Linked DNA regions of Homo sapiens. The protein of the gene in region 1 purifies or fractionates together with the protein of each later gene. This does not show direct contact. Each region holds a gene or a part of one and is shown in the gene's direction. Other genes may lie near its edges.

Region 1 (7,231 bases):
AGCTGGCTGGGGCGGAGGTGATGATCCAGGATGCGGGCCAGCGTAGGGGTCTTGGTGGGCATGCTGGGGTCGGATGGAGCGCAGGAGGGAGAGGAGGGGGGACAGGTGGGTACCTGGGCTGGAGGCGCGGCCTGAGGTGGGCAGGTTCAGGGGGCGTGACTTCATTTAGGGGCAGGGCCTGGGGCTAGGCTGAAGCCGGCAGTGAGGACCCCGCTCTCGGGTGGAATTGGAGGGGACCCGCGGTTGGGCGCGGCAGGGCTCACAGGGACACCCCCGTTCTCCTCCCCAGGGAGAAAGTGCTCGTCGTGCACGGCTTCCCGCCCGCCGTGGCAACCCTTCGGGTAAGGAAGGAGACCAGGCGGCGGCAGGCGGGCAAGGGCTTGGGGTCCGCCCCCCTGCCTGGAGCCGCCCTAACTCCTCCGTATCCTGCCGCTGTTGGAGTGGGCCTGGAACCCCCTCCATAGGCGCGCCTCCTACTCCCGCTGCACCCCGACCTCCGCCGGGACCTCTATGCGCCGCGCCGCACGGGCGATGGCCTTCGGGCCTCCCCGGCCCCAGGGCACCGCGCAGGTCCCTTTGCTGGCACCAAGCCCGAGCCTGAGCCGGACCCGGGGCCCAAGAGGCCTGTGCGCCCTGCGAGCCCTTGAGCTCCAGGGGAGGTCCGCCCCAGGCAGGGCGGCTCATCCCCCAGACCACTTCGGATCCAGCTGTTTGTTGAGGAGCCAGGAAACGCCCTGACACTTTTGCGGCCCTGTCCCCGTCTCTAAGATGGGGATGATAGTATTTCTGGCCATTCCTGAGCACAGCAGGACCTGCCTTTTCCCTTTGACTGGAAGGTTCTTCTCTACACCTATCTTGATAACCTGCCACCTCCACAGGGAGGTCTTCTCTATCTCCCGATTTAAAATTGCAGCTCTGAGAAGCCGGGCATGGTGGCATATGCCTGTAGTCCCAGCTACGGGGGGAGGCTGAGGTGGGAGGATCGCTTGGTCCCAGGAGTTGGAGGCTGCAGTGAGCTCTGATCGCTCCACTGCACTATAGCCTGGGCAAAAGAGCAAGAAACTGTCTCTAAAAATATAAAATAAAATTGCACCTCTTGTGTACTTCCCCGTCTGCTTCTTTACCTGAATACTTACTATCTCACCGGCTAGGTGCTTTATGACTCTCGTTAGTCTCTCCCACCCCAACCTTTGCACTACATTGCCCGAGGGCAGCTCTTGTCACTGCTGTAGAACAAAGTCCTGCACAGAGACGATAGCCAAGAAATAGTTAATAAAATAATGGAAAACGGGTGCCTTCTACTGAGCACCCGCTAATAGTGAGTGAGTAGAGGACTTGCCCTGGGGACATTCAGTGACCTGCTGGGTGTTGCTGAGCTGTGAGGAAGTTCAGGTCTGGCTGCAGTGGTGAGGCTGTGACTCAATCAATCACTGCTGATGCTCCCAGGACCTGCACCAGCTTAGTCCCAGGGGCAAGGATTTTAAACCCCCACCTCCATTTCCTCATCTGTAAGATGCAAATAACAGTCACCTCTGCCTCACGGGATGGAGCTGTGTAATGCCCGGAACAGTGCCTGCTGCATAGAGGGGTTGCTGCCAGCTGCCTCTCCCTCCTTGTCTCTTACCTGCCTGCTGCCTGGGACAGGATGAAGCGGGGCCCTTGTGTTGCCCCAACCCTGGCTGTTGGCTAAGAGCCCACGTGATCTGCCTGTGAGAGGAGTTCCTTCCGGAAGAACCAGGGCAGCTTCTGCCCCTAGAGGGCCAATGCCCTAGCTGAGTGCAGTCCCCCGGCCCCAGCCTGGTCCAGCTTTGGGAAGAGGGTGCCCAGTTGTGCAATCCAGGCCGGGGCAGCCGTGTCCTGATCTTGGTATTCAGGGCTGAGCCTGGAGGGGGCTTGTGATGCCTGACTCTGTCTCTCTCTCTGGCCCCATGCCTTGGTAGCTGTGAGGCGTCACTGCTTTGGGTGACCTGATCTGGCTGTGATGGATGAGCACGGGGGAAATAGTGGAAGACTCGGAATTAGAAGACGTGAGTGGGCTTTGGCCCCAGCCTCCCTACCCCACTCCCTGTCCTGGGCTGCCTGTGACCAACCTTGTTTCTGCAGGCACACTGGATAGCCCTGCTGGAGCTCAGTGTCCCTAATCCCCTCCAGATACTGGTGGCCTAGGGGAGGTCATCAAAGACCGGTGGGACATCGACCTCAGCCCGTTTCCACGCTTTTTTTTGTTTTGTTTTGTTTTTTTGAGACCGAGTTTCACTCTTGTTGCCCAGGCTGGAGTGCAATGGCGTGATCTTGGCTCACCGCAACCTCCGCCTCCCGGGTTCAAGCGATTCTCCTGCCTCAGCCTCCCAAGTAGCTGGGATTACAGGCGTGTGCCACCAGGCTTGACTAATTTTCTATTTTTAGTAGAGACAAGGTTTCTCCATGTTGGTCAGGCTGGTCTCAAACTCCCGACTTCAGGTGGTCTGCCTGCCTCGGCCTCCCAAAGTGCTGGGATTACAGGAGTGAGCCACCGTGCCAGGCCTTCTCCAGGCTCTTGGCACCTTAGCCAGAAACAATTTAAGGACAAGTGCAAAAGTCATGAACGTAGGCAGATTTCCTGCAGAGTAAAGGGACTCACTGAAGAAGAGGAACGTGGGGGTCCTCAAGAGAGTGTCTCATGCCCTACAAGGTGTGGGGCTGACCTTTATGGGCTTCTTCAACTAAAGAGGGGTATATTCATGAAGATTCCAGGAAAAGGTAAAGATTTCTCAAGACCGTGGTGCCACAATTTACACCCAAATACAGGTGTTCCTGGAGCCGTCTTGGCACTGGTGGGTGTACGGTTTCATATGTTACTGATTGTACAGTGAGATCCTAGGTGAAACCTACATCAAATACAGCGCCATGTTGCTTCTGGTTGGTCGCAGCCAGCTTGGTCCTCATCCTATTTTTCAGGGACTTATTGGCCCTTGGCACATGCAGCTATTTCAAGTTTCCTTCTTCTGGTCATGTGAAACTGCTGCCTGGGATTTTCTGTTGTCTTGCTAGCACTCTATTAATCTCACATTCTCGCCTCTTTTCTGTGCCACCCCCTGCTGGTCCGGCTGGTTTTCACTAGAGTGCAATACAAAGTCTCAGTCAAGAGGGCCTCCTGAAGGTTGCTGAGGGCAGGGGTGGAGCTAGTAGCCGGAGGACCTGCCAGTCATGGGGATTCCTCAGGGGCACAGAGGAGGGAGGAGGGGCCTGTGGCCCTAGCAGGGGAGCAGCCTCTCCTCTGCCTGGAAATCCCATGCCTCAGTTTTCCCCGCTTGCCTCTGAGCTCACGCAACCCTGGGAAGGCTTGGGAGACTCACCTTTACTCAGATGGTTGTTTACCTGTCTCGTGCCCAGCTTGACCCTGGACTTTAAATAGTGAGGACAAAGAACGAGGAGGGTGGGGGGATGCACTCCTTCCACGGGGCCCTGTGGCTTCCAAGCCTCAACCTCCTCTGGCCTCTGTCTGTGGAGCCTCCTTCAAACCCATGGAAAGAAAAGTACCTGCCAGGGGCTGTGGTTCTTCTAGGATCTTCTATCGATGTTCTGTGAGGTCCCCAGGGAGCCATGAAGCTGGGGCTGGCTCCCAGGGCAATGGGACTGCAGTGTCCTTGTTCTTTCTTGTTCTATGGATCCATGCTCTGCTCCACCCCTGCCCCTTCACTCTGCCCACACGCATCACTCCAGACTGGCCTTGTGGTCAGAGCCTGGAGTGCATGGGCTGCTGGAGGCCTGTGGGTTGCACTGGGCCAGGACCCCTGGCACCTTCAAGACTGGCCTGGAGCCAGCAGGTAGGTGACCTTTCCAGGGCCTGCCTATCCCATCTTTCTCCTCCAATCCCTCCCCTCTCTTGCCTGGGTCAATTAGAGAAAGCTTGTCTTTTGGAGTTCAGGGGCAGGTCAGGAGCCCAGTGACAGCTCAAAAAAAAAAACCCACAAAAACAAACCCACCATTGGGCCCTTTCCCCTTTCATTCTTCTGTTTTCTACACACCAAACCCAGTCGTGGCTTTGGAGATCACTTTAAGCTTGTCTCCAGCTGGCAAACTAAGGAGGGTAATAGAGAAGCTCCCCCACCCCCAACCCTACCCCTTCCTTCCGGAAGCAAATCTAAGTCCAGCCCCGGCTCCAGATCCCTCCCACACTGACCTAAGAAACCCTCAGCACAGACAACACCCCTGCATTCCCCACACAACACCCACACTCAGCCACTGCGGGCGAGGAGGGCACAAGGCCAGGTTCCCAAGAGCTCAGGTGAGTGACACACCGGAATGGCCCAGGACGCCCTCACCCTGCTCAGCTTGTGGCTCCAACATTCCAGAAGCCGAGGCCTCTGCTATCCCTGCCCTCTCCCCATGGATATCCCATTTCAGACAACCCCGGCCGGCCTGAATCCCCCTCCCTTCCTTTTTTTTTTTTCCGGGGAGGCCAGGTCTTGCTGTCACCGAGGCTGGAGTGCTGTGGGATCCTGGCCACTGCAGCCTTGAATTCCTGGGCTCAAGTGATTCTCCTGCCTCAGTAGCTAGGACTACAGACCCTCACCATCCTGCCTGGATAGTTTTAAAAAATATTTTTAAAAGATTTTTAGAGATGGGGTCTTCCAATGCTGCCCAGATTGGTCTCCAAATTCTGGCCTCAGCCTCCCTAGGGTCTGGGATTACAGGTGGGAGCCACCCTGCCCAGGATCCTCCTTTTGCTGAGTCATCACAGTTTTGCTCATTCCCACATCAGGCTCTGGCCCCCAATACCAGCTCAGTTGCTCAATGGGCTGTTTGTCCTGGAGCCCAGATGGACTGTGGCCGGGCAAGTGGATCACAGGCCTGGCCAGCCTAGGAGTTGCCACATGTGAGGGGCCGAGGGGCTCAAGGAGGGGAACATCGGGGAGAGGAGCCTACTGGGTGGAGGCTGGGGGTCCCAGCAGGAAATGGTGAGACAAAGGGCGCTGGCTGGCAGGAAGACAGCACAGGAAGGTCCTAGAGGTTCCTCAGTGCAGCTGGACTCTCCTGGAGACCTTCACACACCCTGACATCTGGGCCCCGCGCCACGAGGGTGCTTTCACTGGTCTGCACCATGGCCCAGGCCCTGGGATTTTGAACAGCTCCGCAGGTGAATGAAAGGTGAGGCCAGGCTGGGGAACCACCACATTAGAGCCCGACCTGGTTTTCAGCCCCAGCCCCGCCACTGACTGGCCTTGTGAGTGCGGGCAAGTCACTCAGCCTCCCTAGGCCTCAGTGACTTCCCTGAAAGCAAGAATTCCACTTTCTTGCTGTTGTGATGGTGGTAAGGGAACGGGCCTGGCTCTGGCCCCTGACGCAGGAACATGGAGCTGATCCAGGACATCTCTCGCCCGCCACTGGAGTACGTGAAGGGGGTCCCGCTCATCAAGTACTTTGCAGAGGCACTGGGGCCCCTGCAGAGCTTCCAGGCCCGGCCTGATGACCTGCTCATCAGCACCTACCCCAAGTCCGGTAGGTGAGGAGGGCCACCCACCCTCTCCCAGGTGGCAGTCCCCACCTTGGCCAGCGAGGTCATGCTCACCTCAGCCTGCTCACCTCCCATCTCCCTCCCTCTCCAGGCACCACCTGGGTGAGCCAGATTCTGGACATGATCTACCAGGGCGGTGACCTGGAAAAGTGTCACCGAGCTCCCATCTTCATGCGGGTGCCCTTCCTTGAGTTCAAAGTCCCAGGGATTCCCTCAGGTGTGTGTGTCCTGGGTGCAAGGGGAGTGGAGGAAGACAGGGCTGGGGCTTCAGCTCACCAGACCTTCCCTGACCCACTGCTCAGGGATGGAGACTCTGAAAAACACACCAGCCCCACGACTCCTGAAGACACACCTGCCCCTGGCTCTGCTCCCCCAGACTCTGTTGGATCAGAAGGTCAAGGTGAGACTGGGCACAGTGGTTCACACCCGCAATCTCAGTACTTTGGGAGGCTGAGGTGGGAAGATCCCTTGAAGCCAGAAGTTCCAGATAAGTCTCTTCCAAAAAAAAAACTTAGCTGTGCATAGTGGTGTGTGCCTGTAATACCAGCTACTCAGGAGGCTGAGGTGGGAGGATCATCTGAGCCTAGGAGTTTAAGGCTACAGTGAGCTATGATCACACCAGTGCACTCCAGGCTGGGTGACAGAGAAACACTGTCTCAAAAAACGATGAATAGAAAGAGTGTCCCACCAGTGCGGTGGCTCACACCTGTAATTCCAGCACTTGAAGAGGCTGAGGCAGGTGGATCACCTGAGACTAGGAGTTTGAGATCAGCCTGGCCAACATGGCAAAACCCCATCTCTACTAAAAATACAAAAAAATTAGCCGGGCATGGTGGCAGGCATCTGTAATCCCAGCTACTTGGGAGGCTGAAGCAGGAGAATTGCTTGAAGCTGGGAGGCAGAGGTTGTAGTCAGCCGAGACCTCACCATTGCACTGCAGCCTGGGAAACAAGAGCAAAACTCTGTCTCAAAAAAAAAAAAAAAAAAAAAAAAAAAGCGGCAGGTGGCAGGGGGCTGGGCCTGTTGTGGCTCACGCCTGTAATACCAGCACTTTCGGAGGTCGAGGTGGGCAGATCACCCAAGGTTAGGAGTTTGAGATCAGCCTGGCCAACATGGAGAAACCCCGTCTCTACTAAAAATACAAAAATTAGCCAGGCGTTGGGGCAGGCGCCAGTAATCCCAGCTACTCGGGAGGCTGAGGCAGGAGAATAGCTTGCACCTGGGAGGCGGTGGTTGCAGTGAGCCGAGATTGTGCCACTGCACTCCAGCCTGGGAGACACAACGAGACATTGTTTCAAACAAAACAAATAAATATTTTAAAAGGTTTGCCACCTGGGTGGCTCACCGCTGTAATGCCAGCATTTTGGGAGGCCAAGATGGGTGGACCGCTTGAGCTCAGGAGTTCCAGACCAGCCCAGGAAACATGGGGAGACTCCATCTCTATAAAAGATGCAAATAATCAGCAGGGCATGGTGGCATAGCGCTATAGTCCCAGCTACTCAAAAGTCTAAGGTTGGAGGATTGCTTGAGCCTGGGAGGTCAACGTTGCAGTGAGCTATTCTCACTCCAGTGCACTCCAACCTGGGCAACAGGAAAAAAGAAAGCCCAAGGTCTTTTTTCTCTTTTCTCTTTTTTTTGAGACCTAGAGTCCCCCCCCCCAAAAAAAAAAAAAAACCACAACAAAAAGAAAAAAGCAAAGGTCCAGGTGTGGGGCATGTGAATCCAGGGAAGGAG
Region 2 (6,545 bases), on another chromosome or scaffold:
TGGCACCAGGCCCGGCCCAGGATGCCCGTGACTGTGTTAAGGGGCAGAAGGGGTGGGAGTGCTCTTGTGGCCCACCTGCTCTCCCTATGCGTGTCACCATCATGTCATCCTTATTCCACCTGCCTGCCTTGATAGCCCACAGCACAGGATCAGCCACGGCAGACCATGGGGCTCAGGCTGGCTCCCAGGGCCACGCAGTTTGTACTTGGATGACATGAAGTCAAATTGCAGGCTGCGGGACCTCCCACTTCCAGGACCTCCACAACAGGGCCACAGCAGGTGGCCTTTGCCCAGCAGGAAGGGCCCCCCACCCCACATCTTAGCCTGCTAGGGCTGCCACAGCGAACGACCACAAACTGGGTACTTGAACAACAGATGTGTGTTCTCAGTTCTGGAGGCAGGAAGGCTGAGACCAAGGTGCTGCAGGACCATGGGAGGTTCTGGGGGCTTATTCTTCCCTCCTTCAGTTCCTAGGGGCTCCAGCCACCCAGGGCTCCTTGGCTCCTGCCCGTATCCTCTAGTCTCAGCCTCTGTCTCTGTCTGTGCTTCCTCCTCTTCTGCCCCATATAAGGACATTGTCACTCACTACAGGGCTCACTCTAATCCAGAATGAGCTCCTATCGGGACCTTTCACTTAATTACATCTTCAAAGACTCCCCTTCCCCAATACGGTCACATTCTCACGTATCTTTTGGGGATCACCATGAAACCTGCCACCCTGATCATCAGCTCGCTTCCCTGAGAGAGGGCACACTCTCTCCGCCCCCACCCCACCCTGACCTCAGCCTCCTTCCTTGCTGCTGCCCAGTTAGGAGGCGTCCTCCTTGTCTGCAAGCTCTTGGGGCATGTAAGCAAGGAAGGGAAGAGGAGATGAATCCATGCTCCTTCGCCCAGGACCAGCTCCCTGCCTGGCAGGGTCCACGGGTCCCAGAACCGTGCCACTTCCCTGAGCACCTGTTCTGTGCTGAGCTGTGTGTCAGGCACCCTGGACAGGCTGACAGAATGAAGAAAACACAGTGCAGCCACTTTATAGGGAGTGCTGGAGCCCACTGTGCATTCCTCCTGGGGAACGAGATCAAGACACCACCTCCTGGGGTGTGTGGTCTTGCAGCCACTGGAGGAGAGGGACCTCGGGCCTGCCTGTGCCCCAAAGCTCACCTGACCCCTGACCTGCGGCACTTTAGGGCCTGTAGGGCCCCTTCCACGCCCTCGCCTCTACGGTGTCAGACTCTCACCTGGACAGGAGTCCCTGACTCACTAGAGAGCTCCTCCCCTTCTAGGTGGGCTGTGGCAGGAGGCCCTCCCAGAGGCCCCTCCATTGGGGTGCAGACCCCTTGAGTCATAGCTCTAGCCACCACACCCGTCTTTGCCAGGTTCCTCTTCCGGAGACCAGGAACTGGTCACACATCTGTGTCCCCAGTGTCCAGCCTGGCAGGGAGTGGGTGGCAGCCTTGAAGAGTGAAGGAGGGAAGAAATGAATGAATCAGCGAGTGGGTGGGGTAGGCCGGCTGGGCCGTGCAGGCCAGCCCAGCCCCCGACAGTCTCGTGTCCCTTACAGATGTGCTGGTGGACGGACAGCCATGTGACCGCGAGGCTGTGGCGGCCTGCCAGGTGGGCGACCCCGTGCGCCTGGAGGTGCGGCTGACCAACCGGAGCCCGCGCAGCGTAGGGCCCTTCGCCCTCACTGTGGTCCCCTTCCAGGACCACCAGAACGGCGTGCACAACTACGACCTGCACGACACCGTCTCCTTCGTGGGCTCCAGCACCTTCTACCTCGACGCGGTGCGTGGTGGTGTGCAAGGCGGTCTGGGAGCCTCTGGCCATGTGGTCATCATCCCCCCTTCCCTGGGTGGTGGGCTTTGGGGTCAGCATATGTCCAGCAGACGATAGCAGCAGGGGTTCTGTGGTCACGTGTGCACACTGAGTCTGAGTCTGCCCCATTCACTGCAGGAACTTAGACAAGCTCACCTGTCTCTCAGTCCTGGACAGTGAGGCCCTCAGGGTTGGTGAAGCAGGAAAATGTGCAGGGAATGGGAGCTGTGCCCAGGACAGGGGGCTGCTCCATGATTGGACCCTGCTGTGGCATCACTGTGATGTCACTGTCACCCATCCCGTGCCTGCCGCTCCTTCCACGGAAAGGCTCCAGCCCTACGCCCTCAGCCCCCACCTCCCACCTCCTACCTCTCAAGCTGCCTCTCAGCACCTCACTGTCAGGCCCCAGCACAGGCTAACATTCCATTCCCCTCTGCCCCAACCTCTCCCTCACTCCCTCCCACACTCCTGACCCTCCCACACTCCTGACCCCCTGAGCCCCCAAACAATTCAGGAATGGGAATATTGGCAGCTCCTTTCCAAGATGAAAACTGGCTCGGAGAGGCGCAGTGACCTGCTGGAGGGGGCACTGGAGCCAGGCCTGGGCGGCCCTCGCTTCCCCCATAACACCTATGTCCAGGCAGATTCCCAGGATTCCTGGTGGCTTTGGGTGGCCCCTGCTGCTGACCAGACTGATGTGTCTTTCTCCTCCCTGCTCAGGTGCAGCCGTCCGGCCAGTCGGCCTGCCTCGGGGCCCTCCTCTTCCTCTACACGGGAGACTTCTTCCTCCACATCCGGTTCCACGAGGACAGCACCAGCAAGGAGCTGCCACCCTCTTGGTTCTGCCTGCCCAGTGTGCACGTGTGTGCCCTGGAGGCGCAGGCCTGAGCCCGCCTACTTCCGTCCCTCTTTCTGCAGGGCCAGAGGTGACCCTGCCTGGCCTCCCACACCCCCTGCAATGAGCAAGGCCTTCACTGCAGCCCCATCTCCTCCTCCTCCCCCAGACCCCTCCCAGCCCTCTCCTCCTGTTCCTCCTGTAGCATCTTTGCTGGGCTACGCAGAAGCCCCGGACATGGCAGCCCCACCCCATGCCACGCCCCTTCCTACACTGTTCCCTGGACCATACACAGGCTGAAGCAGAGGAAATCCCAAAGCGGGTGCCCATCCAGCCCAGGTCCCAGGATCCCTGCACCCATTTCTGTGACCTGGGGCCCCAGCCGTGCTGTGCTGCTCATCCCAGCAGAGGGACCTCCCTCGTCCAGCGACTTCCCTTTGGCCATAGAAAGAAATGGTGAGCATGAGACTGGGCACAGCCTGAGGGCGTGGGCAGCTTCCCACCCTCCCTGGGCCTTGGAATCCCCCAAGGCTGGTTTTCTTCCTGGAGACCCCCATGGGCAACTTGGCAGGAGAGATGGTGCCGTAGGAGGTCGTGGATGGTTGATGCCAAGAGAGGCCCTCCACCCGTGGTGGGCAAATGTCCAGGCCTGGGCTGGCAGCCCAGGGCTGTTTCTGGGTGCTCCCTGGCCCCAGGGTGGCGTCTGGTTACCATGGCTGTGTGTGTCCATGTCTGCAAGCAGTTCTTCAATAAATGGCCTGCCTCCCCCTCCCTGCCTCCCTGCATCTGCTAGCCCAGTGCAGTCCGGGGCCCCCACCCAGCCCGTCAGCCCCCACCTCAGGTGGCTGGCTTCCCAGCAGAAGCCGGACCCAGGAAGGGACGGGTTCTGAGTTAGAGATCTCACATAAGCAAACGCTGAGACAGGAATCTGGTCACCAGCAGCTTGTCTGGGAGGTGGAAGGAGGCCTGCAGGGGAGGGAGATCACCAGTGAAGGAGTGTGACTGGGCCCGAGCTGCCGCCACAGTGGGCAGCTGGCCCTGCGTTCCTCAGGGAGGACCGGAGAGAGAAAGCACACGGCTCACATCTCCCTTGAGGGCCAGAGCTGGGGTGTGTCTACACTACCCACAAGAGTCCTGTTCTGGGGGCAGGCTTCTGGCTGTGTTGACCCTTAGCTCCCCAGGTCCCAGGGAGGATAAACAGCCCTTGGTCCCCAGCAGATACCAGGCTCGTCAGGTGCCCGTTGGGCACTGAAACTCCCATGGAGTATTGGGGGACAGAGAGCGGGGCTTCCTAAAGGCCAGTTGGCCAAACAGGCAGAGCCAGGAAGTGGCTGCCCTGGCCTCCCATGGGGCAGAGTCATGTTGGCATCAGGAGGCCTGCGGGGCTGAGGGAACTTCCTGAGGACCTGAAGTCCCAGGCCCAAACCTCCCTCGCTGGGAGCAAGGTCACCCTGTGGCCTCCGGCCTAAGGAACAAATTTTTTGTTCCATCTGTGGCCTCCTGTTGTCGCTCAGTGAATGATGGGAGCACACTGTGATGTGGTGTGGGCTGGGGGCATGTGGGGGCGGGTGTCCAGTGGCCCTCAGTTCCTGGAGCTCATTCAGCATCTGCTCGAGGCTCCCCAGGGAAGGCAGCCCCAGAAGGTCTGGCTGCAGTAGGGGGTGGAGACCCCAGGGCGGTCTCTTCAGCCCTTCCGTTCAGGATGCCTCAGCGTAGTTGAGGGCCTGGCCACCTGGGCTGTTTCTGAATGGAACAAACAGCATCCATGTGTGTCAACCTCAACAGAGCCCAAAAATACGCCATTGAATGAAACAACACATTGCAGGATGATGGGCTCAGCCCAACCTCACTTGTGTAGACAATGTCCCCCCAAATTATAAATTTTCTATGCCTCAGAACGTGTCTATAACAACATGTTTAAAAGGTAGAAAGGATACACATCCCCTGTAGAAGAGTGACCTGAACTGGAGTTGCATTTGACATCTGATGTCAGCATGAGGGTGCTGGTCACCGGGGACTTGAGTACGTACTTTCCTTTCAAAAGCACAATAGATCAAGATACAGGTACACACATAGCTACAGATATAGATCCAGCCACAGATCCAGATTAGATATAGATGCATATAGAAGCCTAGAAAAGCCAATATGGAAAACTCTGGCAGTGTTTGATTCTGAGTGGCAAGCATATTGGTGACTGTAATTATTTCTTGCAGTTTTCTATATTTTTTAGTTTCCCAAACTGCAAAAAATACCCACAACAGTTACCAGAGAAAATGCTGGATGCCACAAGAAGGAAGAACCTCAAGGGGCAGGAGGCAAAGTTGTCTTCTTGGAGGAGGGGGTGTTAGAAATAACCCAGGCCTCCTGGAAAATGACCCAAATACAGCCTGGCTCTGCCAGCCCCAGGCCCTTCCCCACCCCCAGGGCACCCTTTCTGTCCCAGTAGAGAAGGTGACCTGGAGTCAGGCCTTGTGTGTGCTCCAAGCGTTTGGAGCTTTACCGTGGGATGTGGGGAGCCAGGGGTGTTGTTTGCTGGCATTTCTGTGGCTGGGTCTTTCTGGCTGTGGAGCTGTGTTTGTGGGCAGTGGCTGAGATGGAGGACCTGGGGCAGGTGTCTCAGTGACAGCGCAGTATCCTCCAGCCTCTTCCAGGGCCCCACGCTACTGGCTACCTGGCAATACAGTCCAGCAGTTGCTGCTTCTCTAGGCCCCTGGTGCATTCAGAAACCTCCTGAAGGCCAGCGGAGGGTAAGCCAGGAACAGATCATGTCCATTGCACTTCACTAGCTGAGCGAGTTGGTTCTGCCCTTCTGATCCTTGGTCCCTCAGGGCCAGGACAGGCCCGGTGACCCCATAATCATGCAGCCGTCATGCTCCGTCATCTGAAATTCACAAGGAAGGCAAGGATTCAAAGGAAGATGTCTGAGATGCTGAACTCCAGCTCAGCCACTTGTCAACTCCTTGACCTTGGACAAGTTACTTAAATTAAGCCTTGATTTTTTTTCATCTGAATAAATAGAGATAAAAATACTTATTTCATGGACACTTTCATATCAGTTTATTTGATTTAACCTCCTAGATTTTTTTTTAGCACATGATAGCAACTTCTTAATAAATACTGGGTCCCTTCTCCTAGCCTTCCCATTGCTGTTCTTTTTAATTCCATCCACATGTCCTGTGCCTGAAATATCCTGTGCCATGTGCCTGAAATTCCATTCTTCTCCTGGAACCCTTAACAGGCCACATTGCTATGCTCCGTTAGTCCCCTGCATGGCTTAATGTATTAGGTAACATGAAGCATGTAAGGAAGAACTTTCTAACACAGGTGCTGAAATGGGACAGGAAATGCTGATGGAGTGAGCTCTTTGTCAATAGAAGTATTCAAGCAAAGTCCGGACCTGTAGATGGTTTCAAAACATGTAAGCATCATTTGGGGCTTCTGAGCCTACCAGCCAAGAAATTGTCAATGATGACTTGTTAAGAGGTATTTCTGATCCCAGTAAGCAGGGAAGAGAGAGAGATGTATGTGACCACATGGCTCTTGGGGCCTCAAGCAATGTCTTAAGACACAATAAATTTTGATCAAAAAAGGCTTTCAACATGAAGGGCTAGAGATCTAGACTAAGGGTCTAGGCTAAGCCTCTTACTGAAAACACATTTGTAAGTGCATCCATGACCCGGCAGGAGAGTCAGAAATATTCACCCCAGTACCTGTGTGTAGGCAAAGTCCTGGGAGGTGAGCTGTGCACTGATGCCAACTTCCACTTTGAGGGGTTTTGCCAAAGCTGGAGTATCAATGTCTTCAGCCTTCCAAAACTGGAGGAAAGATGACAAAGCTCAGGGCCCACTGGCTGGGGAATCGAATAGATGACTGCTCCGCATCAATTTGAGAGCCTAAA

Evidence for each region. The genes of interacting proteins can lie anywhere in the genome.
Region 2: the proteins of SULT1A2 (region 1) and TRAPPC9 purify together in Homo sapiens (affinity purification with mass spectrometry; 3 studies listed by BioGRID and IntAct, with this or other methods). This does not show direct contact.

Annotation. Positions count from the first base shown.
Region 1 is NC_000016.10:28,594,033-28,601,263, reverse strand, and holds the start of SULT1A2 (sulfotransferase 1A2), read left to right. Parts: upstream 1-4,213; 5' UTR 4,214-4,267; exon of another isoform or gene 4,268-5,130; intron 5,131-5,298; exon of another isoform or gene 5,299-5,329; 5' UTR 5,330-5,333; coding exon 5,334-5,481; intron 5,482-5,588; coding exon 5,589-5,714; coding exon of another isoform or gene 5,715-5,799; coding exon 5,800-5,897; intron 5,898-7,231. UniProt on the Homo sapiens protein: Sulfotransferase that utilizes 3'-phospho-5'-adenylyl sulfate (PAPS) as sulfonate donor to catalyze the sulfate conjugation of catecholamines, phenolic drugs and neurotransmitters. Is also responsible for the sulfonation and activation of minoxidil.
Region 2 is NC_000008.11:139,727,216-139,733,760, reverse strand, and holds the end of TRAPPC9 (trafficking protein particle complex subunit 9), read left to right. Parts: intron 1-1,558; coding exon 1,559-1,782; intron 1,783-2,532; coding exon 2,533-2,700; 3' UTR 2,701-6,036; downstream 6,037-6,545. UniProt on the Homo sapiens protein: Functions as an activator of NF-kappa-B through increased phosphorylation of the IKK complex. May function in neuronal cells differentiation. May play a role in vesicular transport from endoplasmic reticulum to Golgi.